Regions from separate parts of the Homo sapiens genome. Here region 2 is linked to region 1. The links come from fine-mapping of genetic effects on plasma protein levels. A gene starts in region 1. The other region holds a variant in brackets. All regions are shown on one strand. Distances are between the middles of the regions.

The links. PIP is the chance, under the fine-mapping model, that this variant and not a neighbour inherited with it causes the effect. Protein levels are from antibody-based Olink assays in UK Biobank. Linkage for the fine-mapping came from a reference panel and not from the study's own genotypes, which makes the PIPs less certain.
Region 2: its variant is fine-mapped to the plasma level of the TLR3 protein (UK Biobank, PIP above 0.99). The variant lies in the coding sequence of TLR3. If it changes the protein, the assay may bind it differently, which can mimic a change of level.

What each region holds. Positions count from the first base shown.
Region 1 is chr4:186,067,781-186,070,809 of GRCh38, reverse strand. TLR3 (toll like receptor 3) reads right to left here and starts at 1,654. Exons shown (of 5, transcript NM_003265.3): 1 at 1,562-1,654.
Region 2 is chr4:186,081,348-186,083,847 of GRCh38, reverse strand. TLR3 (toll like receptor 3) reads right to left here. Exons shown (of 5, transcript NM_003265.3): 4 at 1-1,528. Among named protein-coding and RNA genes, the nearest start is that of TLR3, 13 kb to the right of the region's middle. The variant G/C (reference allele first, on the strand shown) is at 1,273.

The DNA of each region.
Region 1 (3,029 bases):
ATCGCTTGAGCCCAGGAGGTTAAGGCTGCAATGAATCATGATCACACCACTGCACTCCAGCCTGGGCAACAGAGCAAGACCTTACCTCTAAAAAACAAGAAAATTACCTTTGACCAGGCCAAGAAAATTACCTGTGGCTCATGCCTGTAATCCCATCACTTTAGGAAGCTGAGGCTGGAGGATCCCTTGAGCCTAGGAGTTTGGGACCAGCCTGGGCAACACAGGGAAACCTCATCTCCACCAAAATTTTTTTTTAAATTAGCTGGCCATAGTGGTTCACACCTGTGGTCCCAGCTACTCGTGACACTGAGGTGTGAGAATTGCTTGAGCCAGGGAGGTCAAGGCTGCAGTGAGCCACGATCATGCCACTGTACTTCAGCCTGGGCAACACAGCGAGACCTTGTCTCTAAATCGATAAATGAAATAAAATGAAATAAAATAAAATAAAATAAGATAGGGAAATTTCACATCCATCTGAATAACTAAATAAAAAGGTATAAGTATTTTGAGATATGCAAAAATTCAGTAAGTTTATAGCCATACGATCTGTATGAAAAGGTTATTCTAGGACATGCTTCAGTAAAACAAGCAAAAATGCAGTTAAAGGATGAAATGAGAGTGAAGAAAACGTTGCTGTTGAATGAGATCTAGCAGAAATAAAGAAAATGAAAAAAAATTAAAAAGAGACTCACTCAGCCTTAGAATTTTGGAAATATTTTGTGAGGGCACATGGAATTCACATTCTTTGTCCAAGTGAGAGACAATATTGCCTGATGGTTAGGACATGGGGTCTGGAGGCAGACTACCTGGAGTTAACCACTATCCATAGTTTGATTTGTAAACTTTGCAACCTTTGTAGTAGGTTCATACACAGGCACGCCCATATGAAGACACATACCAGCACGTAATCATCTGTAAACCTGGGAATCAACTTGCTGAAGCCAACTCCATTTTTACCCGAGTACCCCACAATTGCCGATACCAGTTTCTGATCTTCCCATACACCTTAACAACTTTCCACTTCTCCACTTCTTCCATTATCCTTCATTAGGTGAAAGAAAGCCATTTACTTACTCCTAGGCATACCTGAATGTTCTCTCCTATCTAAGACATTGTCATACAATGCCAGCTCCTGTCTCCCCTCCAGCCAATAAAACTAACAAAAGGGGATACGCTCTTTTAACCTCTTGGAGTTTTGTTTCTTTAAGGCAAAGATGTGATTTGCTAAAAAGACTGTTGCAAAATGATTTCCATAGCTTCCCTAATGTGTTTTTTCCAGGTACAGAATGCTACAGAGAAAAAAATTAAATACTGCATAAATACATTATCACATTAACTAGATATTGGTGCTATTACTTGTGTTCTGAGTTATACCCTTCTCCCATGCCCATATCATATCCCTTTTCTTCCACTTTCCTTCCTGAATAATTCTGACTAGATTTCAAGCACCAGATCAAAGAAAGACCAAAGAAGGCTAAAACCACATGCATTCTGCTAGCAAACTCTACTCAGCAAGAGAGACCCTGCCCAGTAAGAACGTGAAATGAACACCTTCACTTACTTGGATGACTGCTAGCCTTTCCTTTTTTCTTTAGTCCAAATCCAGACATTTCATCAGGGAAGTGTGTGGCAAATAGACGGCACTCTCGAAAGTGAAAGTAAAGCTTGAAAAAAAATGCTTTTATGTTTGGTGCATTCCAAGAAGGGCAAAGGGAGAAAACAAAAACAATCTCTGACAACCTCAGAGAGGCGTTTCAAACCGCCTCTGAAAAACACCTAGTTTTTATTTTATTTTAACTTTTTTTAAGCTGAGATCCTTGGATTTCATTGAAAGGGTCACAGATTTAGCAACAGCTAAAGTTGAAAGTGGGGACCTCACCATTTGATGTGGGCGGGTCTGGACCTCTGCAAGTTAAGGAATAACAGTGAATCCCTCAATTTTCTGCTAGACTCATGCGAAGCTGTCAGAATTGAGTAGTGTATGGTCACAGGGACAGAAAAAAAAATCCCTAATCAAAGCTGAAGTACTTTCCCTTCTTTCGTCTGGCTTTTATCTCTTTGCAACACTGTAAAATAACACCGGCAGAAATTAACCTCTTGATCCAGGAAGAAACTGAGTTTCACAGCAGAGAAAGAGCCAAACATGGCAAAGCTGAGAGCCAGTCCCACTCCTGCTGATCCACTTTTCCACGGTCAGACGCGTTAGGGAACAGATCAGTATGCCCAGAAAAGTTCAGATTAACTAAGAATTTCGTTCTTAATTTGCTTTAATGACTCCAACTAGTTAAGTAAATGTACTTGTTAAGAAATGAACTCACTTTTTTTCATTACAGATGTGCTATGATCTATTATAACTATATTGTTATATAGTGAAATATCACAATTGGAAGGAACTATAGACCACCTAATCTAACTCCCTTGTTTGAGAAATTAGGAAAACGAAACCTAGGGAGGTGAGTGGTTTGCCTAAGAACATGCCACAAGCCACCATATGCTTCAATCACACAAGTCATAAAACAACTGGACGGCTGGGACATGGCATTAGCTTGAACTCATTGCAGAGCTGATGGCAAGAAACAAGCGTGCATCATGGTGCAAAGTGCCCTCTTGTGGGCTCCAGCTTCAGCTAGACCGCTTTATAGTTACTGGGCTCAGGGCTACATGTCTCTGATTTTCATTTGTGACATCTGTAACATAACACCATAAGCAAACAGATGTCCTGAGTACGTGACTGTCCCTCACATCTATCCATTGGGATGTCCAGGAAAACTTCACTAATATTCAAAAGATTTCTTCTCTGTGAGCGCCTTGAAGGCAGGGTGAGGTTTATTCTTTGCATTATAGCTCCCCAGCAACCCTCTGAGGTAGACTGTTTCTTTGGCCTTCAATGAAAGAGACTCGTCCTCAGAATTCAAACCCTTGTGTGGCCTTCTCCCACGCTGACTCTAGGCTTGGCCATTTGACTAGCTTTGACCAGTGGGATATTAGCAAGCATGCAACAAGGTCTCATTGCCAAACACGATTACCCA
Region 2 (2,500 bases), 13 kb before region 1:
GTACAATAAAGATAAAAATCAACAGGATACTGGTATTGATCATGAAAAAGAGTTCAAAGGGGGCACTGTCTTTGCAAGATGATGTATCAAAAAGTCTCACTGGGAACCCATGATAGTGAGGTGGAGTGTTGCAAAGGTAGTGGCTTGACAGCTCAGGGATGTTGGTATGGGTCTCGTTAATCCAATTAACAAACCAGGCAATACTTTCACACGTGCAATCAAAGGGATTAAAGCGCATATCTAACTCAGTCAGGTTCCTGAAAGCTGGCCCGAAAACCTTCTTCTCAACGGATGTTATGAGATTCTTCTGAAGGTTCAATGACTTTAGAGACACCTGATTATTAAAGACAGATGCTGGAAGTGTGTTTAAATTATTCAATCCTAAATCGATGATCTTTAGTTCAAATAAATCCTTGAAGACCTCAACTGGGATCTCGTCAAAGCCGTTGGACTCCAAGTTAAGGATGTGGAGGTGAGACAGACCCTTTAGGAAATAAATGGGACCACCAGGGTTTGCGTGTTTCCAGAGCCGTGCTAAGTTGTTATGCTGCAAATCGAGAATTTCTAGTTTCTCAAGACCCTCCAACATGTCATCATTTATGTTGGCTATGTTGTTGTTGCTTAGATCCAGAATGGTCAAGTTACGAAGAGGCTGGAATGGTGAAGGAGAGCTATCCACATTTTTAAGGGCCACCCTTCGGAGCATCAGTCGTTGAAGGCTTGGGACCAAGGCAAAGGAGTTCCTAGTCAGCTGCAGGTACTTGTTGTAGGAAAGATAGATTTCGAAAATATTTTCTAGACCTCTCCATTCCTGGCCTGTGAGTTCTTGCCCAATTTCATTAAGGCCCAGGTCAAGTACTTCTAGGTGGCCCAACCAAGAGAAAGCATCACTCTCTATTTTTGAGATTTTATTCTTGGTTAGGTTGAGTATGTGTAAGGGAGAATGAGCAAGTGATACAAATGTTTCATTTGTCAAAGTTCGCAAACTTGTAAAGGAGTTGGATAGACTTAAGTATTTCAGGTTTATCAATCCTGTGAACATATTGCTTTTTATGCCTGGAATATCATTATCTTCCATGTTAAGGTGCTCCAAACATTTTAGCCACTGAAAAGAAAAATCATCAATCTTGGGGAGTGAGGCAAGGGAAATACTTTGTTTAGTAAAAGACCGTTTCAAATTCAGGTACCTCACATTGAAAAGCCCGTGCAAAGAGTGAGAAAACAAATGCTGTATATTATTATACTCTAGGAAGAAATATTCTAGTTGTGGAA[G/C]CCAAGCAAAGGAATCGTTACCAACCACATTTAAGTTGTTGTAGGAAAGATCGAGCATAGTGAGATTTGTCCACTTTAGTCCCAAGAAAGTTGTATTGCTGGTGGTGGACAGCTGGCTGTTACTCAGAGACAGATTCCGAATGCTTGTGTTTGCTAATTCCAAACATAGCTTCTCTGTAAGGCTGGGACCCAGCTGGACATTGTTCAGAAAGAGGCCAAATAATCTTCCAATTGCGTGAAAACACCCTGGAGAAAACTAAAGGTAGGAAAAAAAAAGAGGTTAACAATCAAAAGAACACAGACTCTGTAATGCTGTTGAAAGCCTTTTTTTTTTTTTTTTTTTTTTTTTTTGAGACGGAGTCTCGCTCTGTCGCCCAGGCTGGAGTACAGCAGTGCAATCTCAGCTCACTGCAAACTCCACCTCCTCAGTTCAAGCAATTCTCCTGCCTCAGCCTCCCGAGTAGCTGGGATTACAGGCATGCGCCACCACGTCCAGCTAAGTTTTGTATTTTTAGTAGAGTCGGGGTTTCACCGTGTAGGCCAGGCTGGTCTTGAACTCCTGACCTCATGATCCGCCCGCCTCAGCCTCCCAAAGTGCTGGGATTATAGGCCTGAGCCGCTGCACCCGGCCAGATGCAGTTCTTTACTCCATCTCCGCTCACCCTTCACCACATCCCATGGGCAGAGCATTTCTCCCCCTTCCTGTAATGCACGAGTCCTTCCTTACTCGGTTCCTGCAGCGCCCACCTCTTACTCCAGCCTCTGACCTCCCCTGGCCACGGGCTAACTTCTGCTCAGCATTCACAGCCTCAGCTTAGATGCCACCTTTTCAGGGAGGCTTCTCTGACCTTCCAGTCCAGGATCCATCTCCTGGTACTTTTTCTTTATCACCATGAGAACAATTGCAATGAATAAACTGCTCGTGAAGTCACTCCTGGGGCAGTTCCTGGTTGTGTCTTGGTGCCGCTGTTCTCAGTGAGCCTCATGGAAGGAAGTTGTGGATGGCTTTTATGATGAGGCGGTGACGGCACACTTTCCTTTCTGGAACTCTGAGCTCTAGCTCTCCCTCTCGTCTTTCCACCCGGATTTTCTCCTGACTTTCTTTTACTATCGTGTTTTTCCAGCTCCCTTCTGCTCCGTCCTACACCCTTACCAGAGCCTTGGCTGTTCTGGGACTCACTTCGGGGACAAGAGAACAGCAGGTGGGAGAGGAGGAATCCAGAGAGAA